Linked DNA regions of Homo sapiens. The protein of the gene in region 5 purifies or fractionates together with the protein of the main gene of each other region. This does not show direct contact. Each region holds a gene or a part of one and is shown on either strand. Other genes may lie near its edges. The genes, in order: LRP6, PASK, SCARB2, SORL1, CCN6, NOTCH2 and BRAF.

The links.
Region 1: the proteins of CCN6 (region 5) and LRP6 purify together in Homo sapiens (affinity purification with mass spectrometry; one large-scale study listed by BioGRID and IntAct). This does not show direct contact.
Region 2: the proteins of CCN6 (region 5) and PASK purify together in Homo sapiens (affinity purification with mass spectrometry; one large-scale study listed by BioGRID and IntAct). This does not show direct contact.
Region 3: the proteins of CCN6 (region 5) and SCARB2 purify together in Homo sapiens (affinity purification with mass spectrometry, with the first as the bait; one large-scale study listed by BioGRID). This does not show direct contact.
Region 4: the proteins of CCN6 (region 5) and SORL1 purify together in Homo sapiens (affinity purification with mass spectrometry; 2 studies listed by BioGRID and IntAct, with this or other methods). This does not show direct contact.
Region 6: the proteins of CCN6 (region 5) and NOTCH2 purify together in Homo sapiens (affinity purification with mass spectrometry; one large-scale study listed by BioGRID and IntAct). This does not show direct contact.
Region 7: the proteins of CCN6 (region 5) and BRAF purify together in Homo sapiens (pull-down; one large-scale study listed by IntAct). This does not show direct contact.

Annotation. Positions count from the first base shown.
Region 1 is NC_000012.12:12,180,045-12,183,544, reverse strand, and holds part of LRP6 (low-density lipoprotein receptor-related protein 6 isoform b precursor), read left to right. Parts: intron 1-2,105; coding exon 2,106-2,502; intron 2,503-3,500. UniProt on the Homo sapiens protein: Component of the Wnt-Fzd-LRP5-LRP6 complex that triggers beta-catenin signaling through inducing aggregation of receptor-ligand complexes into ribosome-sized signalosomes.
Region 2 is NC_000002.12:241,108,536-241,111,472, reverse strand, and holds part of PASK (PAS domain-containing serine/threonine-protein kinase), read left to right. Parts: intron 1-2,574; coding exon of another isoform or gene 2,575-2,774; exon of another isoform or gene 2,775-2,937. UniProt on the Homo sapiens protein: Serine/threonine-protein kinase involved in energy homeostasis and protein translation. Phosphorylates EEF1A1, GYS1, PDX1 and RPS6.
Region 3 is NC_000004.12:76,168,825-76,172,324, reverse strand, and holds part of SCARB2 (lysosome membrane protein 2), read left to right. Parts: intron 1-2,339; coding exon 2,340-2,458; intron 2,459-3,500.
Region 4 is NC_000011.10:121,556,814-121,560,313, reverse strand, and holds part of SORL1 (sortilin-related receptor preproprotein), read right to left. Parts: intron 3,001-3,500; coding exon 2,909-3,000; intron 1,724-2,908; coding exon 1,477-1,723; intron 796-1,476; coding exon 657-795; intron 1-656. UniProt on the Homo sapiens protein: Sorting receptor that directs several proteins to their correct location within the cell. Along with AP-1 complex, involved Golgi apparatus - endosome sorting.
Region 5 is NC_000006.12:112,052,610-112,056,903, reverse strand, and holds the start of CCN6 (cellular communication network factor 6 isoform 1 precursor), read right to left. Parts: upstream 2,801-4,294; 5' UTR 2,570-2,800; coding exon of another isoform or gene 2,547-2,569; coding exon 2,499-2,546; intron 1-2,498. UniProt on the Homo sapiens protein: Plays a role in mitochondrial electron transport and mitochondrial respiration. Through its regulation of the mitochondrial function may play a role in normal postnatal skeletal growth and cartilage homeostasis.
Region 6 is NC_000001.11:120,059,663-120,063,162, forward strand, and holds part of NOTCH2 (neurogenic locus notch homolog protein 2 isoform 1 preproprotein), read right to left. Parts: intron 1-3,500. UniProt on the Homo sapiens protein: Functions as a receptor for membrane-bound ligands Jagged-1 (JAG1), Jagged-2 (JAG2) and Delta-1 (DLL1) to regulate cell-fate determination.
Region 7 is NC_000007.14:140,732,930-140,736,429, forward strand, and holds part of BRAF (serine/threonine-protein kinase B-raf), read right to left. Parts: intron 1,842-3,500; coding exon 1,668-1,841; 3' UTR 1-1,667. UniProt on the Homo sapiens protein: Protein kinase involved in the transduction of mitogenic signals from the cell membrane to the nucleus. Phosphorylates MAP2K1, and thereby activates the MAP kinase signal transduction pathway. Phosphorylates PFKFB2.

The DNA.
Region 1 (3,500 bases), on a different chromosome or scaffold from region 5:
AAATTGCTTTTTAACAACAGAGAGATGCTTTCAGAGCTGGGAAAAAAAATCCATATTTAAAACAACTTCTTTTTATACTTAAGAAACACACTTTGCCTGTTCTCCTTACTCTTAATTCCCTATAGAGAGAGGGCACGTTGGAGAAAGTATACTGATTTAGGACATTTTAAGGGACTTCCAGTTTGGAAGAACACCAGTTCTTCTGTTTTTCTTCTTAATGAGAATGTTATTCTTCATTCTCACCCCTATGGATCACCATCTGGTTCTCTAGCAACCAGCAAGACCTGGTAAGAAAATTGTTGTATTTAGCTGTGGCTTCTTTATCTAACTCTGAAAAGCAGAAGCCTGTGTTTTGGAGTGTGTTAGAGTCCCTGGCAAGGGGGCCAGGGAGTCAGAGAGATGGAATTGAGTCTGTGTACAGGATGTTTGTTATGACTTGGCATTGATAAATTATCCTCATAGTAAAAGGTGAAGCTGGCTGACTCTTGGTCAAATGGTTTCCATGGCAGACAGCAATTTGGTTTCAATTTAAAACAAAAGGTTTTTGTAATGTTGCTTTTTTCTTTAAAAATGTAGCCTGACTTTAAAACAGAGGATTTATTTTAGCAATAATGGTCTATCTGCTCCCTCACAGCAGTGCAAGTGTACATATTTAACCAGTTTTGAATTTCATGTGTGCATTTGGCATGTAGTAGCCTTAAGTTAACTGTTCTGTTTTGATCACCTTGCTCAAATTAACAGCTCTATGACTTCTTTGTGAAGTTCTAGGCTGGCTCCTTTTGGTTGTTAGCCGGGGCAGTGAATTGTACAAAGTTATTCCTACTTGGTTCCTGCAGTGGCATTTGGGCTGTATTTTCTTCAAGTTGGAATTCATTTATAATTAGCTCTAGAGTGAAAGGGCTGATATTGAGAGGCTTCACTCCTCTTCTCAGTTTTTTGACTTGTAATTGCAGATTGATTCTTGAAGTTTATATGCCAGTATTTTGTTTTGGACTCATTTATTTAGCTGGGAATCTTTTCTTATTCTTTCAGTTGTCAATTTGCTTACTGTCTTTTATTAGCTTCCTATAGTTAGACGATTTTTTGCTGGTGGTTTACTTGAACAATTTAAAATGAAAAAAAGATTGAGCTCAGTATCTTCATTCTTGGTTATGTGGTTAAGTATTTGGGGCTTGGGCTTTAAACAGTTCATAAATAAACCTAATTTAAAATTCAGTGAAATAAAAATCTGAAAATCTTTATTTTTTAATACTGTTGTTAAGTATTAGTTAATATTTCTTGAGTACTTAAATGTTCAGTACTTTCCTGAGTTTTAGATTTATCTCCTTTAATCCTTACAACAACCTTACAAGGTATAGATGGGGAAACTAGGCTTAGCGAGATTAGATATTTTCCCAAAGTTTGTGTAGCTTCTTGAATCAAATTATATTGGATCCACAACTCTTAACCACTGTGTTATGTTTATCTGGTTCCTTCCCTCCATTGCAGCTGTTTGTTTCTCCATAGCTTGCTTTGTCCTCAATTCTGTGAGGTATTGCCCTGTATTTCTCTTTGTTAAGACAGTTTTACTGAGATGTAACTTACATAGCATATAAAATCCATCCATTTTTTAAATTGTACAATTCGGTGACTTTTTAGTAAATTTACAGAGTTACGCAGTTATCACCACAATCCAATTTTAGAACATTCCTATCAAGCACAAAGATTCTTGTCCTAAATTTCTTTATCTTTTTTTAAAAAATGCTTCTTGAACAAAGGATCTATATCCTACATTTCCTTCTCCTTTAATACTGAGCTACTTAGCTTCTTAGTCATTACATAGTCATTATTCATTGTACTTTTAAATAGCTGGATTAATTCCAATGAAACCATAGAATGTATCACAACTTAATTTGGAGAGTTAGCCATTAAACAGCTTGACCTCAGAGTAGACTCTTCTATTTCACTGTATTACTTTCCATTTCCACTCTAAAGAGAGTGCACATCCTTTTGTGTTAATTTATGTATATTTTATATTTATTTTTCAGTTCTTGATTCTTTATCTAGAGCAGGTAAATTTTACCTCTGGGTTTCAAAGTATTCTTCATTTCACTTTGTTGTTCTAGGTGCCACAGAATTATTGCTTTTAGCTCGAAGGACAGACTTGAGACGCATTTCTTTGGATACACCAGATTTTACAGACATTGTTCTGCAGTTAGAAGACATCCGTCATGCCATTGCCATAGATTACGATCCTGTGGAAGGCTACATCTACTGGACTGATGATGAAGTGAGGGCCATACGCCGTTCATTTATAGATGGATCTGGCAGTCAGTTTGTGGTCACTGCTCAAATTGCCCATCCTGATGGTATTGCTGTGGACTGGGTTGCACGAAATCTTTATTGGACAGACACTGGCACTGATCGAATAGAAGTGACAAGGCTCAATGGGACCATGAGGAAGATCTTGATTTCAGAGGACTTAGAGGAACCCCGGGCTATTGTGTTAGATCCCATGGTTGGGTAAGAAGCTCTACTGATAGTAAATTCTGTGTGGTGTTTCTGTTTTTCACAGGTTCCTGAAAACATTGACTAAGATAACATGACATATATATTGGTTTCCAGTAAACAGCTCTTTAATGGCTGTCTATTTTAGGATATGGTGATTAGAATACAATCTCAAGTTTAAAAATTGCTAGTTTTTTGCCTTGGATGTCTTAGATATTTTTTCTTTCTAAATTAAGTCCATGTTTGCTGACTTTGGGTGTTGTCTGCAGATTTTGCTCGGATTGCATCATTACCATGAAAAATGTGGGAAGAAATTGTTTTCAGAACTCTTTCCCTTCCCCTAGAAGCTTTAATTCCATTTTCAGTACTTTATAGTAAGAATATAGCTTACTTTTTTTTCCCTAAATACATGAATGACTTGATTTCCAAAACTTTGCCAGCCCATGCAGCTTTACTTCTAGTTTGTTGTTGTTGTTTGTTTTGTTTTGCCATGCCACCCTGATCATAGTCCAGGGAAGTACAACTTTTTACATACTCAACAATTTTGTTACTTTGAGATTTATTCTGAGGACAAGCATAGTGACAAATTACACCTCAGTATATACCAATGCCTTAGAGCCATCTAAACATCCAGGAGCCGTAAGAATCACTTAGCACTGCAGGAAGAAATAGTTATTTTGAGAATTCAGTTTGCCATCTGACTAATACTGCTGGGATAAGCCTTTTGTGTCAGAGAGATGACAAGCCATCAAGGAAAAGAGAGAGAAAGTTCATGGAAAAGGGCACACAAAATATTTAAAAAAAAAAAAAAAAAAAAGAAGTAAAACTGTAATCTCATTATTGGGAGGCATTTTCAGGATTGGCTCTAGAACACACTGATCTGAAAATTTCCCACAATCTTATATATTGCTGGGATAAATGTCTTAAACACCTCTTCATATGTTTTTTTTTTTTTCCCCTTCCTTGGCATTAACTGATGATACCAGTGTAATAGGAGGGATGGATCTCACCTT
Region 2 (2,937 bases), on a different chromosome or scaffold from region 5:
TAAGTCAGAAATAGATAGCAGGTGTTTTCCACTAACACCTACATGTATTTTAGAGAGGTGTGGTTGGAATGCATCTCTAGGTGAGTTCATGGTTAGAGAGTCGGATGATCACAGCACTGCTTGGACCCTCCTGGCCCTCTGCTGCAGTGCTCTGCTGCACCGCCCATATCTGCTCCATGTGGTTCTCTAGGAGGGAAGCTGATGCTGCCCCCACAGGAGAGGCACACGGGGTCCCTCACAGACCTGCTGCACCTGACCTGGTGGCCTGAGGCCAGGGCATTTGCTCGCAGTCACGCACGAGCTCCATGCCGTGCCTTGGGCTCTCGGGAGGGCCTCAGCATTGGGGAGAGGAGTGGCTGGGCTCTGGATCCTGGTGTCTGCTTAGGCCATATTTCATTAGGAGGTGCAGGTTCCAGGCTGCACACCCTGAGTCCTCAGAGCCCAGCAGCCTCAGCCTGCGCCAACCTCTCCATGCCAGGCAGCGTTGAGCTCTTCTGGGCCTGGATGCCCTGTGTGCAGAGTATGGAGGAAGTGAAAATGGGCTCTTCCCCGCTAGAACCTCCATGCATCTTCAGAGCCACCAAACAGCGTGAAATATCGAAGGGGGTTGGTCTAAGAAGGGCCGTGGAGTTTCCCTTCAGATCTAGTTTGGTTGCCCTAGAGCCTGGTGGGCGCTGGTGGGCTCTGCCTGCCCTGCAGTGGTTGTCGTGCCCTCCGTGCTGGAGGGAACTGCCTGTCCCCTGTCCACTGACCCATGATGCCTGCTGCATGGCTTGTCACCCCTTCCTGTACCCAGGCCGTGAAGCTTGGGGAGGGTGCAGGGGGGATCCAACCTGGGCGAGAGCTCAGTGCTGCTTGGCCACCTTGGCCCTGCCTCCCAGAGCTGTGGCTCCCACCCTCTCCCTGAGCGCCTGCCCTGCCAGGGCTCTGCCCTGCCTCCTGGCCTCTCCTTTCTGGCTGTGAGCGGTGTACTGCTCCTGGGCCTGCGGGGCTGCAGGCCTCCTCTCAGGAGCTCCTTCCTCCCTCCTGCGTCCTCTCCCCATCTCCCTGGATGAAAGGGTTTCTGAGTTCTTATTCTCAATCCCATCCTCAGGGCCCTGGCTTCTGTCTTGTCATCTTCATCTCCGTCTACTCCAGGGTCGGCAGACTGTGGCCTTAGGTCCCTCTTCCCCTTCCTCAGGCCCTGGCAGCTGCCATTCTGCTATTTTCTCTATGAATCTGACTACTCTAGGGACCTCCTATACGTGGAATCGTACAGCATTTGCCTTTTGGTGACTGGCTTATTTCACTTTGCATAAAGTCCTCAAGGTCCATCCATGTTGTGGCCTGTGCCAGCATCTTCCTTTTCAAGGCTGAATTTGATTGCGTTTTCTGGATATGCTGTACTTATTCATCTGTCAGTGGACATTTGTGTTGCTTCTACCTTTTGCTTCCATCTTTATGTTGTTCGTGATGCTGCTACAAACGTGTGTGCAAACATCCCCTGCCTCTTGTTTCTATAAATAAAGTTTTATTGGAATGGAGCTGTGCTCATTTGCTTATGTGTCGTCTGTAGCTGCCTTTGTCCTACATGACAGAGTTGAGTTGCAGTGGGGACCATGTGGCCCAAAACCTGAAATATTTACTATTTGACCCTTCACAGGAAAAGTTTGCCAACCTCTGTTCTGTTCTATTGGATATTTCTCTTCAGCTTCTAAACATCTTGAAATCTCTCTAAAAAACAGAAACAACACAAAAACAAAAACTGCTGAAACTGATTTTCTTGCTCTAGCCCCTACAGCTCTCATCCGTCCGCTCAGCTTCCCTGCGGTCTGTGCTAGCCACCCCACCACCCTGCTGACTCAGCCTGGGGGCCCGACTTTCACCCACGCTGCTGCTCTGGCCTCTGTGATCTGCCCTCTTGAGCCCTCCCCTCCCCTCCCCTCCCCTCCCTCCCAGCCCCTCTTCTCCGAGTCCAGCCCGGGGCTCTGTCCGTGCCACTCTTCTCACTGCTGTGGTTTCTCTTGGCTCCCTTGTCTAATTCTGGTTCTGAGAACAGGCTGCTGCTTCCCAGACCTCTTCTGGGGACAGACCCCCAGCTGCGGACCTGGAGACGCATGGCCTTGGCCAGTGCAGGGGCAGGGCTGTGGGTGCTGGTGACCTGGCTCTGGTGCGTGCTTGGCAGCAACTTCACCTCACCAAGCCTTGCTCTTCTGTGCAAAATGAAAGTCATATTTATCTTGCTAGGTTGTTGTGAGGATTTGGGTTAAGCCATGTAAAATGCTGGTACAGCATTGGCATCTCTAGGTACCCAATAGATGGTAGCATGGATGAGGATGTTTACGGTGACAGGAAATAAATGGTAGCATGGATGAGGATGTTTACGGTGACAGGAAATAAATGGTAGCGTGGATGAGGATGTTTACGGCGACAGGAAATAAATGGTAGCGTGGATGAGGATGTTTACGGTGACAGGAAATAAATGGTAGCGTGGATGAGGATGTTTACGGTGACAGGAAATAAATGGTAGCGTGGATGAGGATGTTTACGGCGACAGGAAGTAACAATAGTCCTTTGGGTGTCTTCTCCCTGAAGCTTGCTCCTCCATTTGGCCCACTGTGTGAACACCCACCTTCACCACGTCCTTCTTGTTTGCTTTCATCCTTCGGTGTTTTTCCCTGTTCAGTCTCGTCCTGCAGCACCCTTCACATCGTCGCCACAGCCATCTTCCTAAAGGGCATGTGTGTCCATGGTCACACCAAGCCCGTTCACACCAAGATCGTGAACATGCCTGATCACGTCTGAAGGGCACGTGACCCTGTTCTGAAGTGGCCTGCAGCTCCCGTGGCCCTCAGCAAAGCCAATGGACGTGTACTCTGCTTCCTCCAGGAAGCCCTCCCCCCGCTCCCCCCTCTGGTAGACACGTCTTGTGGTTGGTGTCCACAAGGAAGTTCCTGA
Region 3 (3,500 bases), on a different chromosome or scaffold from region 5:
ACTGCACTCCAGCCTGGGCAACAGAGTGAGACCTGGTCTCAAAAAACAAAAAAATTATATATATATAAAAAATTGTTTATATATACGTATATCATATATATGTGTATATATACATATATATATACAACTGACAAAAGTATTTTTCATCTTGAAGACTAGTTTTAACAGCCACATGTATATATTTATGTATGTATATGTTAATATATTTGTTAATATATGAGTATATTAACAAATTTTATAGTTATATATAAATATGCATATATTTGCATATACTTATATTTGCTATATTTTAATATATATGTATATAGTATATATATATAGGTATACACACACACGTGCGCAAGTGTGCACACACACTCATGGTGCACACACATGCATGTATGTCCCAGGGTCCCATGTTGGATATACCAGGGCCCCAGAATCTACACTTTTAACAAGTACTCCAGCTGATTTCCATAAAGATGGCGTCTAGGTATTTGGGGACCATTGTGCAAGGGAACATGGTACCCTTTACCTGGAGATAAAGACCAAGGGTGAATGGGAACAAGTTCCTGGTTGTGATCTCCCCCATTGCCTTACTGGTAATAGTCCTGAAACAGTGTCCCTGCCCCCTCATCTGGTGTGCATCTGGCTCAAAGCAAAAATGTAGATATATTTTCTCTTGCTGTTTTTATTAAATTCTGTTTCCTTAAGAAGCTGATGCCAGAATCAACAGAAGTATTCTACTTTACACATTTAAACTTCTTGCTACAATCCTTTTCCTCTTCCCTCTTAACGTATTCCCGAATTTGGACTGAAGTGAAACTCCCCAGGATTATCCTCCAGTGTTTTGAATTCTCCAGGGAAACATTTTGGATAGCAGGATGAGTGTTCTGGAGTCAGGCAGATTGGGTTTGAGTCCTATTCTATTTGTTGGTAAATTGGCCAAAGTTTATTAAGGAGGGTTCCAGACATCAGTTTTCTCATTAATAAAATGGAGGTGGTTATAGCTTCTTGAGGTTGTGTGAGAGTTAGAAATAATATATATAAAACACTCAGGACAGTAGCCCCTATTAAGCCCTCAACAGATTTAAAAAATACATTTTCAAGGTCATTATAGGTCACAAAGAAGGAAGTCATGCCTTTGTGGAACTATTCAGCAGTAAACAGCAAAATGCATGTGCATGTGAGAGATGAGGGATGAGTTCCTTAAGCCATGGGCTGGTGAATATGTAAGCAAATTTAAATAACTTGCCGACAAGCTCCTTTCTCCAAAAATGTATTTCCCTGGCAGCAATTGTTGGGTCCCTCTCTTCTTTTCAATAGCCAGATCTAGAATAGGTTTCCTTTAGTAACTTGTTTCCCTATTTGGTTATATATATATATATATATATATATATTTAAATTTACATAAGCACTTATTTGGTTCTTAAAATGAATAGGAAAGGAAAAACCCCAGAATCTTTGTGATCTGGTTAGAGGCTGGGTGTATAGCACAACCAGGCTAACTCTTAAAAAATTATGTAGGCCAGGTGTGGTGGCTCAAGCCTGTAATCTCAGCACTTTGGGAGGCTGAGGCGGGCAGATCACTTGAGGTAAGGAGTTCAAGACCAGCCTTGCCAACATGGTGAAACGCTGTCTCTACTAAAAATACAAAAAAATTATCCGGGTGTGGTGGTGCATGCCTGTAGTCCCAGCTACTTGGGAGGCTGAGGCAGGAGAATTGCTTGAACCTGGGAGGCGGAGGCTGCAGTGAGCTGAGATTATGCCTGTCTTTGGTAAAAACAAAACAAAACAAAACAAAAAACCACCAAAAATTTTTTTTTAATTTTAAAAAGGACAAGAAATAAAAAGTCAGTCCACTTACTGATAGAGAATTGTAGTTGAAACTAGTGCTTTGAGGTACAACACCCTTCATTCACTTAGTATTCTGCCTTCATAGCCTGATGGCTAGCTGTCCCTGGGTAAATTTTGTAACTTCTATGAACCTCACTTTCTTCAAATGCAAAGTGAGGCTAATAGTTCTGACTTTACTGGGCTGTTGGGAGCATTAAATAAAATAATGTGTATGAAGCACTTATACTTTAACTTCAGTAAATATTTGTTGAAGAATAAATAATTTAGCCTGAACTTCAATATATAATGTGGAATAAAAAATTGGGGGTAAATGAGATGTCAGAAAATGAAGTATAAATCCTGAACTAGGAGGTAAAGGATGGTGTTTTAGCCTACCCAAGTTAATTTATATGTAGCTTTTTTGTTTTTCTTTAGGAACCAGGCTGTGGCCAGGAACTTTTATATTCAGCTCAGCTTAGATTTTAAAAACAGCATCATTCATTTCTGTTTTCCTTCAAATGCAGGTGCACCCATCATTATGTCTTTCCCACACTTTTACCAAGCAGATGAGAGGTTTGTTTCTGCCATAGAAGGCATGCACCCAAATCAGGAAGACCATGAGACATTTGTGGACATTAATCCTGTGAGTACATACTTCCTCCTGGTAAAAGAGCATATGTTTTATTCTGTCTATACATTGTTCACCAGTTTAGTCCTGAGCCTTCTTTAAAAATATCCTTACTTTCATATACATATTCAAGTGGGAGAAATTCAGCTCAGTGCTGATGGAGGCATTGTCTCATAGCCCTGTAATTAGAAGGCTGAATTTTGTGGATTGAATAGCAGAAATACGAGCAAACCTGCCTTTAACAAAAAGCAACAGTGAAAACTCAGTTATTGGAAACTACTGATGTACCCATATAACCTGGTCAATCTTCTGATGCTAGCCTTGGACCTCAACATATATTTATTTCTCCCCTTGGGACACAGATCGATAAGGTTAAAGATGTCCCTTTGCTTCCTCACTGCCAGGAATATTTTGGTTGAAATATGAATATGTATATTAACCTCAGTCACTTTTGGCAAACTTCTTTCTACAGGTTATTTGAGAGTTTATTATATTATTAATTGTAAAGGTATCAGATATACATAGAGGAGACATACACACGTGTGTGTGTGTGTGTGTGTGTGTATAATACACATTTACTCCTGTATTCATAGACGAGAAAAACAAAAACCATGCTAACCATGTCTTCATTTTTGGAATTTGAACATTATGGACCAATAAAAAAAAAAAACAAGAACATTCTTTTAGCACAGTATTTTATGGGTACTTCACACTCTTAGCTGCATACATTGCATTTGTATCTGAGAAACCAGTGATCTTATGCTCTGGTGAATAAAATCGTGTGTGGTTTTCTCCCTTTTCTCTTAGCCATCAGCTGATCAGTTCCCTTGGATCAGCCAAACTGTTAGCAGTGCTTGTCACCAAGGGACGAACACAGTCTTATAACCTTAGTGCAAAGATGGAGCTGCCCTAAGGATGACAAGTGCTGCAGCTGTGCCCCATGGCTACGCTAGGCGGGCCCTATACTAGGATGCCACTCTCTGGCAGTGACCACCACCCTCTTCTTAGCTCTCTGGACAACTGCCTGGAAATCCAGACCTGACAGGCTATCTTTTAG
Region 4 (3,500 bases), on a different chromosome or scaffold from region 5:
ACAGCTACTGTCTGCACCCACTGCAATTCTTCCCCTCCCTTTTCATCCCTTATTCTTTCAACAAATATGAATTGAGCACCTACAAAGTGCTAGACACTGGTAAAACTATCGGGGAATAAAAAAGACCATCTCTTTCTTCATGGGGTTTAGGGTTTCATGGTGGGAAAAGTTAATTAAAACAACACCTAACTACACAGTGCCATTCCAGCAGAGGTAGGTACGGTCAATGAGCAATAGGTCATCTGGGCAACCAGAGAACAAGCAAGAGGCCCTGTCAGGAAGCAACAACTATCTGAGCACCCAGCACAGAGTCTCTTCCTGCAAGCATGCCAAACAGGGATTAAGCACATGTTAGGACTCTCCCAGCTGCAACAGAAGCCGCGCCACCAATCAGTCAGGGGCCAAGGGCAGGAGGAGGGTGTAATTACCCACCAAGCACCAACACTCTAGGCAGGCAAAAGCATGCTGTCTTCCAGCTGTTTGTGTATCATTAGAAAAGAAATTAAGATGTCATTAGGAAGAAATTAAATAATGTGCATGTTGTCGTGACAACAAAGATGCAGGCTGCCAGCTCCTACTCTGAGCAGAGATTGGCCACACGCAGCCCCTTTCTTGAGATCAACTCTACAGAGACAAAAGAAGAGACTCTGGCTTACCAGTGTTCTTCCCCTTGTAGAAAATCTTCATGTCCATGAGCCCCGTGAGCTGGTTTGCCAGAATCTCCATCTGGGACCCACTGTATTTGGAAGCTCGGAATATGCTGAGCTGTGACCAGTCATCCCAGTAGATTTCATTCTAAAAAGAAAACCTTTGCCCATTAGTCCAGCTCTTTCGTTCTTTATTCTGGTTCTCTCTAAGGGTAAGAGTTCCCCCAGGCAGGAGACAACTAACATTTATTGGCTGAATGACTAGCCTGATCAAGATTCTACTTAAATGCAAAGGACAGCAATTTTATCCAAACCTCACCATATAACCCCACAGAAGAAACTGCCCAAAAGAAACTATCTGATAAGCATTCAAGTTTATGACACAAACCCAACCCCCTCAGTTTGAAATCTGTTTCCCAGAGTTGGGAAGAGCCATGTTGCTCTCCAGAGTCGAAAAAGAACTGCAAGGCACTATAGGTGGTGCAGAGCTCACCGGAAGTCATCAGAGAATAAAGTGAGCAAAGCGCACAAAAAATGAAGACACCACCCTGAAATGAGGCTACTGACACTGAGGGGCAAACTGGGAATGTTCATGGGAAGAGCCTTCACTTTTAACCTTTTGAAATGTGAACAGCAGGGGAGCCTGGACCCTTGGCGCCTCTGCCTGGCATCCCTCCATAGGCTGAAAATAAGTTATCTCAAATTTGGAAAAAAGGCAACCTTTAAGAAGTTAAACAGCTTCTCTGCAAAGCCCAGGGATGCAGGCTCCTGATCTCATATGCTCCTCACCCGCTCTAGCAGACTGTCCGGCAGCAACAAATGGACTCACCTTAAAGACAGCAATGGCATAGGGGTGCGGGAGGTTGTCCAGAATGACAGAGCGCTGCTGGCCACTGAACGTGATCCGCTCTATGCACTCCAGGTAGGCATCCGTCCAGTAAATCCACTGGTCGTCCACAGAGATGCCATTGGGCCACTTCACATCCTCAGACACCAGGTGATAGGCAGCAGAACCATCCATATTGCTCCGATAAATCCCAGGCTTCAGGTCTCCCCAGTCTGTCCAGAACATCACCCTAGCGAAAATGGGGACAGAACACATACCTCATCAATACTAGAGAAATGGGAGCTCAAATACTACTCCAGAAAAGGTCAGAAACTCCTTTCGAATGATCCGGCTGGTTATTTCAGCATTATTATAACAATATGTAATGACAACACCTGAAACTACTTAAATTCCTTCACCTGGAAATTCCTTTACTAGAATTTATCTATAGATAAAATCAAATTATGCAAAGATAATATACAAAGAAATGTATATGTATGTATATTAAACTAAATGTTAATCAGCAGAGGAAGTGACACATTATGGTACATATAATAGAATACTGTGAAACCTAAAAATCTATATATGCTCACACAGAACTATTTTCAATACATATTAAGTTTGTTTAAAAAGGTACAGAATAGTAACTACACTACAATCCTATTTGGCGTGCATGTGTGTGTATATGTGTGTGTTTTAAAGATAATACTTGTACATAAGTAAAAGCAATCATGAAAGATACACAAGACATTATTAACAATGATTACCACTAGGAAGTGTGAGGGTAAAGGGTTAAGAATGAAAAGGAAGAATGCAAATTTTTTTCATAAAGTGCTGTTCTCTCTAAATATTGTCAACCAAGTACATACATTACTCTTAGAATTTTCCTTGAAAAAAATTGTGCCAATTCTCTATCATAAATGCTACGAGAGAGGAAAAGCCAGAATGTCAAATCCAGAATTTCCCTCTTAATTATGTTTCCTTCAGTTAATGAGTTAATAAAAAGCACCTTTGCCTTCCCCAAGTGCACACTGATTGTACGTAAGAAAACCTACACATGCTGGGAAGGCAGGGGAAAGATGGAATGAATTAAATGTTTGTACCATGCATGAAACTCAAGAGAAAGTTCTCACAATATCCAAGCAGGCCTGTCTATGTCTACAGAAGCTCTCTTTTAACATCAACTTTTCTAGAGAAACAACCCACAGATGCAAGACATCTGGATGCCTAAAGAGACTCTGACACTGGCTAACAAAAAGCGAACGGAGTTACCTGACCACGATGACTAAGCTGTGGTCTCAAACTTCTCAGTTAATAGACCATTTCAACCACCATCATGAGAAACAGAGTTTTTGTCCCGCAGTCTGTGTTTCCATGAGAATCTATTAGTGTAGCATTGGACGCAAGACTGATTTCCTTTTGGGGCAACACTTACCCCTCTTGGGGCACGAGGACCAGAGCCCTGGGACGATCAAGCACAGAGGAATTGACGATTGTGAGTCGGAAGTCGCCATCTGGATTAGCTACCTGACAAAAACAGGGGGAAAAGAGGCTGAGATGGATCGGAGCTCCTTAAAGACCCCCATTGCCAAAGATGGCTACTCAGCTTCTGCTACAGACATGCCCCCTCCATGCCTGCCTATTTCCCTGACCTGACCCATCTGCGAAACCTGCCCCAACTTCTAGTCACAATGCGCTGTTCCTTCCTCTGACTCATGGGACAATTTTCAAGTGGTCTGAAAGAGGAGCTAGAACCATGTAAGCCCCAGTTTCCAGGGCATGATGATCTGGACAAAGCAGTATCAATAAGTAAATTACTCAAATAAGTAAATAAGCAAATGAGCATTTACTTATTTCACCATCCCGTGTCACTCCACGTTCCAAGGCAATCGATGACTCCACACTCCCATAAAACAAATTCTCAATGTCACAGCCTTGCAATGAAGAGTCCACAGGTGGGACTCATATTCTTGCTCCTTCCCGTCAGCCAGGCTGGTCATCTCTTGCTTCTCCAAGCCTGATGCGGA
Region 5 (4,294 bases):
ATTGAGAAGAAGATGTGCAAAGACAATGTTGAAAGGAAAAAAAAACAACCTGTCAACCCAGAATTATATGGCCAGTGAAACCATCTTTCAAAAATGAAGCTGAAATAGCCTGTAATCCCAGCACTTTGGGATGCCGAGGCAGGTGGATCACTTGAGGCGGGGAGTTCAAGACTAGCCTGGCCAACATGGCAAAACCCCATCTCTACTAAAAATACAAAAACTTAGCCAGGTGTGGTGGCGTGCACCTGTAGTCCCAGCTACTCAGGAGGCTGAGACAGGAGAATCGCTTGAACCCAGAAGGCAGAGGTTGCAGTGAGCCAAGACACGCCACTGCACTCCAGCCTAGGCAACAGAGGGTGATTCCATCTCAAAATAAAGAAAATCATAACAGTAGACTGAGAAAAGGGGGAAGCATTACATACAGAAGTACAATAAAACTGAGATCTGACTTCTCATCAAAAGAAGGAGGAGGAGGGAGAGATGGAGAAGAACAAGATGCCCAGAGACAATGTTAAACGGAGAAAAAAAAAAATCCTGTCAATCCAGAATTATATAGCCAGTGAAACTGTCTTTCAAACATGATGGTGAAATAAAAACCGTTTCTGGGTAAACAAAACCTAAGAGAAATTGTTGCTAGCTGATCTGCCTCACAAGAAATACTAAAGGAGGATCTTCGGTCTGAAGATCTTCTGTTATGATAGTAACTTAGAAATACAGGAAGAAATGAAGAGGCCTGGACATAGTCAATATGTGGGTAAATATAAAGAATCTTATATTTTTCACTTTTCCTCAGGCATATTTTGATTGTTTTCAACAGCAAAATTTCAGGACAATAAGCATCACTAGAATGGTGCAATAGAAAGAATAAGCATTTTGACAACAGATCCGAGCTTTGCAACAGCTCTGTGATCTTACAGAACTTCCCATCATTTGATCTCCTCTGTAATATGGGATTAATAATGACCACCTTGTAAAGTTGTTTTGATAATTAAGATAATAACTAAAGCACCCTTGGGCCGGAGGTGGTGGCTCACACCTGTAATCCCAACACTTTGGGAGGCCGAGGTGGGCGGATCACTTGAGGTCAGGAGTTCAAGACCAGCTTGGCCAACAGGGCAAAACCCTATCTCTACTAAAATACAAAAATTGGCAAGGCATGGTGGTGTAGGCCTGTAATCTCAGCTACTTGGGAGGCTGAGGCACAACAATCGCTTGAACCCAGGAGGTGGAGGTTGCAGTGACCCAAGACTGCACCACTGCACTCCAGCCTGGAACGACAGAGCAAGGCTCTGTCTCTAAATAAATAAATAAATAAATAAATAAAGCACCCAGCACAGTATTTGGCATATAGCAGCTATTCAGTAAATGCTAGGTATTATCAGCTATTTCATGAATTTATGAATTCATAAAAGCAAAGTTAAGCACAAAATAATCCATTTTTACCGCTCTTTGTGTAACACCTTTCTGTGTTTGTTGTTGTTTATTTTGTACACATCTCTCTGTGTTGGAATACCTGCTGTCTAAGAACATCTAGCTGCTCTCAATCCACAATGACAGGCTTTTTCTCAAGAACAGTGGAATAGGAGGCACACAGACAGGGGAGTGAGCCCCTCCACAGAACAGCAGCAATGACCTGGACCACTGACATTCTTGTCATGATTCTTTTGAAATCGTAAATCTCTCTCTATATGGTATAACAATTTGCAATTCCTTGTTTTCTAAGATGTATCTACTACTTATGGCCCCAATCAACTACTAACTCACAGACACACCCATGTTTCCTAAATCACCAGATTTCAAAAGCTCTGTCTCCTGTCTACCGTGTAAATAAATCAACAATTAAGTCACCTTGTTTTCATCTTCTTATTTAAAAAGACTAAGGCAATGAATTGCTCATAGTAAGTTAAACTTCCCTTTGGTCTGTTGCTTGAAATATTTCCAAGCCTCCATGGACTGCTTCCCTTTCAGGAAGTGAGAAACACATGGACTGAGAAAAGACAAAGTAAGAGAATGTTTTAAAAATGTAAATGTTTATTCCAAAGTGCCCCTTTCAAAGAAGGACAGACTTAACTGGAAAAAGTCGCTGTCAAAATTCGTTTTTCCAGGGGCTCTTTGCACATTTTGCAAACAGCAATGGAAAGTTGAGCCTCCGCCTGGAGCTGGCATGGAGAGACACTGTTTCCCGCACTGTGCCAGGCTGTGCCTTAGGCTCTGCTATAAAAATATATAGGAAAGCGTGGCGCTGTTCAAACATAGCGAAAGGAGGCTTCGGTGCCATTACCTGAAAGGGAGAAATGTTTTACATTTCTTTCATGAAGCTCATGAACGAACACAGAACTTTATTTGGAAAGAAAAATGGCTTCCTATTTCTCATGAAGTAGTTCCACAAGCCATTGATCCTCCCTCTTCCTCCATCTTCGTTTTGTTTAGTTTTGGGCCTGAAGAACTAAGGATGGCCATAGCCTCCGGAAGGGAAAGAGTCGGGGGAGAGGACTTACCTGTGCCAGGCCAGCAAGCAGAAGAGTGGAGAAGAGGAGCCCCTGCATGTCGCTGGGACCGTGGAGCCACCCTGAGGGGTAGAGAAGTCGCCGCTTGTTCATTGCTCCGGGTACACAAAGCTCCCCTGTCTCCTCTGCAAACCCCACGCTCCTCTGCACAAGAACACACACCCTCTACCTCCCACACTACCAACTTTCAGCCTGCACTTTCATTTTTAAGGATCCGTTTTAATACCCTGTTTACTTTCATGGGACTCTTCTAATAACCTGCCTTCGCAGTGAGCGTGTCACAGGTCAGGAATGGGCGAGCACTTTCCTCCCGGGACTCAGGAGGGCAGGGCAAGTAGTGACTGTTCTCTAAGTGACTGTGTTACCTGTTCCTGGAGAGCAGAGCCTGCCCCCGACAACGGGTGGGGTCCCACGTCATTCCCTTCCTTGCCCTCAGCTTCTCCATCTGTGTTTGCCCTGCTCCGGGTCCTCTCTAGGCTGCTTCCTTCTCCAGCTTCACCCTCACGTACAGAGTGCAGGCCTGGCCCCCCCACCAACAGCACCCATCGCAGCCTAGCCCTGGCTTTCCCCCTCCATATTAATGGCAGGCTCTCGAAGGACCCTGACTCCCCCAGCTCAGATTCTCTCGGAGGCACCCACAGTGCCCTGGGCTCACCTTTATCCCAACACCTTTCTCATGCCAGGTGGACTGTGAGTGGAAAAAATACAGATGGAGCAGGGGGCGGACTCCTACAGTACCTGGCCTGAGAGACGCCTCTTTTTGTGGCCACAGTTCCATGACAGATGACAATGAAGTTAACCTCCATTTTTCCGGGCCTAAAATAAAACAATTACACTGGTAGCAATCATTCATTTAATGAATTAAGATTAAAAATAAGCCTGGCCAATATGATGAAATCCCGTCTCTGCTAAAAAAAAAAAAAGACACAAAAATTAGCCAGGTGTGGTGGCAGGCGCCTGTAATCCCAGCTGCTTGGGAGGCTGAGGCAGGAGAATCGCTTGAACCTGGGAGGCGGAGGTTGCAGTGAGCCGAGATCGCACCATTGCACTCCAGCCTGGGGGACAAGAGTGAGAATTATTCTCAAAAAAAAAAAAAAGATTAAAAATAAAATTTTGACAGGTTTGTACTCCTCTTCTTCATACTCACCTCCCTGAAAGGTGTGACCACCAGCGCATCTCCTCCTGTGTCATCATGTGGGACCTTCGCTTCTCCATGTTCTCAGCCTGGGTCTGTGTTCCCATCTTCATTTGCAGCTGCCGTGGTGCTTTGTCCCTCTCAGGTCCCTGAGGCGTCCCACCTGCCTGCCCCCATCCCAAGGCCTATTTCTATTTCCTTTGATCAGTTACCTATCCCTCCTTTTCCTGCTGCCTTACCTATCCTATACCGATTGCTCACCTTTGTTACTGTTCAAGGCAGTCACTACTGTATAAAGACAACATCAAGCCTCGCTTAGGCCTGAGCTGAGGGCCTGGGAAAAACGAGGCTGTCCTCCACCACAGAGAATCTGGTGTCCTTGGAGAACCATGGACACCCTAAAACCTGCAGATCACACAGAGCTTACTAAGGAGTCATTAAACTGTAAGTATATGCACATCAAACAACAAGGAATACCCACTGCAGTTAGGATGCCAACGCCTTATCTTGCCTCCCTAAGAAATAGGACAAAACCAGATAATGGAGTAGTGAAGAAAATGTGTCTGTTTTGGTCCAATCTGATCTTTTTCTTTTCTTTTTTTTTTTTTATTATTATACTTCAAGTTCTAGGGTACATGTGCACAATGTGCAG
Region 6 (3,500 bases), on a different chromosome or scaffold from region 5:
TCATCTTGTTCTCTGACCAAGCTAACTGGCTAGACCCACTGTACTGGCATTTATCCATTAGGTCAAAGTGTCAGAATTAGCAGTGCATGGTAGACATAGCATTAGTCCTGCCTTTCAGGGATGTTAAATGCTTCAAAAATCTTGGCTATCTAGAAAAGGAGGACAGTAGCCGATTACGTCACCCACCCAAAATCATGTATTTGACTCCAGAATACACTGCTTTTCTCCAACATATTTTTTTATTAAGTATTAAAGTAAATGTCAATTTCCTAGACATATACAGCTGAAAGCATGCTGATTTACGATACAGTCAGATAAGAACTTTCAAGTAGCTACAGAAAATAGCAGTTAACAAATGAATTAACCAATATCATTAGAAACCAAAGGATTAAAAAAATTAACCTATGAAATGAACAATTTTTATATCAACATTGGTAGCAATTTGATGTTATGTTATATACTGCTAATTATTTCCATACATATTGTGACATATTTAAGACAAAAGACTAACACCCTTAATATTTAAAGAGCTTTTTCAAACCAGTAAGAAAATAATTAAATGAGTAAAAGACACAATTTACCAAAAGAAGTAGAAAAAAAGGCAATACAAACGCCACTGATGATATGAAAAAACATTCAATATCACTGTAATGAGAGAGGCATATTAAGATTAAGTAATATTTACCACTTATCAAATGGTAAAGATTTTTAAAAATAAAACCTAGTGTTGACAATAGTATATTATGTGTGTGTGCATATATATATATGTAGATCTGTTCATAAACTAAATATATATATATATATATATAAAAATAAATCAACAGCTTTTCTAAATCTAAGGGTAAAAAAACCAAAGACGTATACCAAAAAATTAATGGCAGCATGATTGTGGACATTTTATTTATGCTTTTCTAGATTCTTCAAACATCCTTAACTACTTTTTCAAACATAATTACTTTTTATTTTACAAAAATAAAAAAATCTTGTAAAGGTGCCAGAGAAAATCAGCAAAGTATAAATACGAGTTAATTATCTGTAAACATAACGAATAATTCTGTTGCTACGTAAACCTACCTTAAACTGTTTCAATGTTTGTTTTTAGTTACAACTATTTTCCTTAACTCTCTTAGAAAGAATATGTCAGAGAAGCCACTACATATTACTTACTTTAAATAGTAACATAATGCCAAAGACTTGCATGAATCTCAGGATACGGTCTTTTACCTAAAATTCCTCATGAAGATTAGAATGCACTTTAAATGTTGTAATAAAGTAAATGCCCTTAATGTTTCTAACTAAAGAAGATCTAGCAAATAAATAAACCCATATTCACAGCAAATAAAAATATAATAAAATAATCGAAATACACATGTCCTCAAACTTCAATGTGTCTTGACAGCGTCTGAACCAAAGCATGTGTAAGGAGAGAATTAAACAAAAATGTCTTTGCTACTTACCACATTTACCATTTAGAGAAGTTGATATATCAGCACTATCTAGTTTTGTGATTATTCATACTTAGAAACTCAACAGAACAGATTAGTGAGTAAACAGTATTCAATTATTCTTATTTGAATGTTGGTTAGGTATACCAATAGAACAACCTCTCCCTGCTAGGTACCCGTTAAAATAGATTATTGAAAATATTTGAAGCTTAAAAACTTACAGAATCTTCTCACAAAAAAAAAGATGAAAATAAAAAGAGATGAAAAAGAAGCAAACAACAATTTTAAAACGTGCCTGCCTCAGAACAAGGCAGTTTATTTTAGAATGTAACCACAGCTTCTTGTACAACACCTTATTCATCAAGCACAACTGTATTTTAAAGGAATGCTATTTGTTAAAAAGACAACATATTTAGGATAAGGTATCTAACTCCAACCACAATATTATCATCATGTTTTCCTTACTTCACAAAATACACACATACATTCATCATATGAATAAACATATATAATAAGGGTGAGAGAGCTACTCTTAACCCAGAAACAGGTTCTGCAACACCCATAGATCCAACCTGTCTTTATGCAACAATGAGTCCATCTTGGCAAGATGTTTGGCTGATGTATTCAAATAACCCAGAGTTCTGCCAGCTGCCAGTATCCTGCAGAAGGAACTGACTCGGAGACCAGAAACTGCCCTAGGCAAGCCTCCAGGGAAAGGTGCTTCAGTCCAATGGGAAGAAAAACCCAGCCCCTCACTGCCTGGCCAGAGGACCCGGGGTACCATGGCTGGAGCGACGTAGCTGGCTGGAAATGCGAGAGGGGCAAGGGACACTAAGGTGAACCCCCAAGAGCTTGTTCAATCATACCTAGTAAAGGCCAAACTATTGGGGAGCTAGTAGAACAGGGTTTTGCCAAGACAAGTACAAAAGGGTGAGGGAGATATTAGTATGATTAATCAATGCCACCTGAGGCAGCAACTCTGGGTGTGTCCACACCACACTTCAGTCACTGCCTGGCTGTGACGAGAAGTTCCTTCAGCCACTGCCACTGAGAACTGCATCTTCCAAGGAAGATATCTCCACCATAACTTGTCCTAGTTCAGGCTTGGCATTCGGGACTAAGAACACAGCACTCTCTCTTGCCGCAAACCCACTAACAGACATAATAGACACCACAACATGTGCCAAATTTATATTTACACCCTCACCAGACAAAGGGGTTTTTGTCTTTTCCCCAAGCCAAGTTCTAATACTTCTAAATTACAACACAGAAAGAGGAAAATGGCAGACAGCTCACGACAGCAGACAAGCCCAGCAAGGGTGAGCTGGAGGTCGCCTTTCCCTGGTGGTATTAAGACCTGAAGTTTACTCCCAAGACCCTATAGCTCCGAGTCACCCTGACTGCAGGAAACTGCTTTCAGAGAGCATAGATAAATGATAAAATAACTGTATTTCATATTCCTAATTGTGTGCTTATCTGTCTTGTCTCCATGATGATGTCAGCTCCTTGGGAGCAGGACCATATTTTCTACTTGGTCAATGATTCCCACACATCTAGAAGAGGAGAATACCCTGTACTTGCTACCACATGATGCCAAGGGAAGCACACAAATTAAGTGTGACAACACACCACAATGCTCCCCCAATACACCACTAAGACAGCAGAGCTACAAAGATAGCAAATGTTAGTGCCAAGGGCTAGTGATCCTACCAGTGAATTACATGGAAACCTATGTATTTACATACACAAGTTAATACAATAATTCCTTTGCTTTTCTTATTCCAAGCTATGGCTTTATCATCCCCCTTTCTTGGCTTTACTCTCCTTTTTAAGACCACAACGTATGTTCTGCCATACAGATAATATTCTCCTCAAAAAAGAGAGACAGGAGAAAAAACAGATCTACGGCAAACCTCCTACCACTACCAGTGATGCAGTTTGTCCCGTCTCAAGCCTATGAGCATATCCTTTCAGATCTGAAGCCACTTCCTTCTTCCTATCAAGGACAGTATTATCAAGTGTCTTTGTGAGAGGAGCAATCCTGTGCCCCTTCTT
Region 7 (3,500 bases), on a different chromosome or scaffold from region 5:
ATTACTAATAATCATATATTTAATGCCACTGGAGGATTTAAAAATCATATACTTAGATATTTTCCAATAGTTGTACTTCTTTATTCCTTAGTATCATTTTTAAAAATACGTGAAATGTTCCTTTTCATTTTCTTAACTAAAGTCATGAATCAATTCTGATTCATAATGGCATTACTTATCTTAAGCTACCCAAATGAGGGGTTAAAGATTTGCCGTAATTATTATTGAGTGATTTTCCTGGATGACATCTAAGTATTCAAATAAAGAAAATGTTTCAAAAATTTATTTGTGGGTACTTAAAAACTAAATTATCATTAATTTAAAGTCTTCTCAATTTCCTTCTTTATTGACTTCAAGGAGGCATTTATGCAGATATGTGTTTACTGGAAGAACCTTGATCTATTGGCTACATTTAAAAATCATGACAAAACCAAATTGAGTAAGTGAAGATATAGTTAAGAGGCTGACAGTGAAGCAGAGATGGCCAAATCTTTGATAGGACCACGTGCTGTTGCTTTCTACTTTTGATTCCCTCTGAATCACAGTAAGAATACACTGACCACCACATTACAGTCATTTTCTACACAACAAAGTGTAAGTACTAAAGAACCCTAACAAATACTTCATACCATTGAATGAAAAAAGGAGAAGAGCATTCATTCATCATAAGTAGAATCTTGCTGGGCAAAGAATATAAGGAGGACAGAACATGAGACACAATGATAAGGTGATTGCTAAAATATGCATCATGAGAGGTAAGAATAATCTAATAACAACTTTAAAAAATCTATTACCTGGTGTTTGGCAACCAGAGGTATCTCAAAGAAAAACACACCTAAAAGTTCTCACAGAATTCTGTGAAGATTTTTTGCAGGGGAGAGATTGGGTGTGAAGGGAGCAATGCGTTTGCAACAAAATTTGACTTCTACATGAGCGAGACATCCTTAATGTATTTTAAAAAAAGCTATTTAAAAGAAACTCCAATTTATAACATTTTCCCGCTAAAAATCCGAAGTTAAGACATTTTACTCATGTCAAACGTGCCACTCCTCAGCAATATTTTTGGTCACCTGCACTCAAAATTTATAAAAAGAAACTTAGTTTATTGCTTCAAGGAAATAAAAGACATCCACATTTTCCAAATTGTTATAAAAAGAAATAGTTATAGAAAAATTATTAAGAATAATAATAGAATTATTAAATTCTACTGACTTCCTAAATTAGATCTGTTCAGTTTGCCTTATCTAACCCAGGCTAACCGACTGCCAACTTCTCACCTGCAAACACAGGCATAGGTAGGGTCTTCTTCTGGAGTCCCTAGTGGACATGTGATAGCTGGCAACAAAAGTTGCATGAGAAACTGAAGTTTACTACTTAAAATAACCAAGTGAATGATACAAACCCGGAACAGAAAGTAAAGCCTCTAGAAGAGGCTCTGCCAATTTTTAGCAATGTCTATGTATTTTAACCCTTGGATGTTAAAAATCCAATGTTAAGTATAAATTTTAGTTTGGGGAAAAATTATATCTAGTCTTTAACCACACAAGTGTTCTTTGGTTCACCTTAAAAAAAAAGAGAGTATTTTATTCAATTTAACATATAAGCAAACATATGTTCATTTATTTTCCTTTTGTTGCTACTCTCCTGAACTCTCTCACTCATTTGTTTCAGTGGACAGGAAACGCACCATATCCCCCTGCCTGGATGGGTGTTTTTGGAGAAGCACAAGCATATAGACTAAAATCCTCTGTTTGGAAACCAGCCCGATTCAAGGAGGGTTCTGATGCACTGCGGTGAATTTTTGGCAATGAGCGGGCCAGCAGCTCAATAGAGGCGAGAATCTACAAAAAAAAAAAGAAAAAAAAAAGAAAAAAAAAGAAAAAAGAAAAAAAAAGAAAGAAAGAAAAAGAAAAAACAGAAAGAAGAATGAAAATCTGGGTGGTATAAATCTTTAAGAGTCCCATCACACTTTACAAGAAAGCACCTGAAATCTTACATTGTTTTCAGCATTGTCATAAATGCTTGGGAAAATATTTGTAAATAATTGGTATTTTTTCTTAAGAAGAAACTCTCTCTGTAAATTAAATGGGGAGAGTAATTCTTAGTCAGCTTTTATTTATATTTTAGATCATTTGTTAGTCTTGAAACAGTAAATAATAGAAATTTAAAACCAATTTTATACCTTTTTGTTATAGACCACAAGTCTCTTTTGGGAAGAAGATGGAGTATAAATAAGTAAAGCACTTTATGACTATCTCTAAACAGAATTATCACAGCTACTTGCCCTTTAAAGAAACCTAGCCATGGGAAATGTTTTACATACACCTAATTGAAAGCAGAACCTCACAGACCCAGAGTGCTAGTAGCACATGAGAAGTGACAGGGGACAACCCAAGAGCAAAGATAGGAGAACTCGACAAATAGACCCCAATATATAAAATGCAGAAATTCACAATTTTAAGGCACAAAGAAACAGGTTATAATCCTTGAAGGCATACAGCATGATAATGCATGTTCATAATCATGAAACATGTTTAAAGGGCTTGGCATAATGCCTGGCCTATAATAAGCACTCAATAAAACCTTAGCAGCTATTATTATTACTTTTGTTATTGTCCTGAGATACCAATTTTTTTTTTTTTTTGAAACGGAGTCTCGCTGTTGTCAACCAGGCTGGAGTGCAGTGGCACAATCTCAGCTCACTGCAACCTCCCCCTCCTGGGTTCAAGCGATTCTCCTGCCTCAGCCTCCTGAGTAGCTGGGATTACAGGAGCGCACCACCATGCCCAGCTAAATTTTTGTATTTTTAGCAGAGACAGGGTTTCACCACGTTGGCCAGGCTGGTCTCAAACTCCTGACCTCAGGTGATCTGCCTGCCTCGGCCTCCCAAAGGGCTGGGATTACAGACATGAGCCACCATGCCTGGCTGAAAATTGTTTTTAAAAGTTAAATTTTTTTTAAAAAGTAATCTTTATGATGATTAGTATAAGACAAAGAAGTAAGCAGTTGCAAAAAATTGTAAATTCCAAGTATAACATGCAAATAAAAATTAAAATACTATAGAAATGTATAAAGAGTATAAGGCTCTCAAATCCTGCTCTCCAGGGATAACCACTGTTAGAGTCTATACTTTCTTCTGTACCTTTTTTTTTTTTTTTTGAGATGGAGTCTCACTCTATTGTCCAGGCTGGAGTGCAGTGGCGCGATCTCAGCTCACTGCAACCTCCGCCTCCCAGGTTCAAGCGATTCTCCTGCCTCAGCCTCCCGAGTAGCTGGGATCACAGGCGTGTGCCACCACGCCCGGATAATTTTGTATTTTTAGTAGAGACGGGTATCACCATTTTGCCCAGGCTGGTCTCGAACTCCTAACCTCAACTGATCCACCCACCTTGGCCTCCCAAAGTGCTGGGATTACAGGTGTGAGTCACTGCGCCTGGCCTCTTCAGTACCTTTTTTTATGTATAAAAATACATACATGAAAACAAGGCCCACCTGAACAC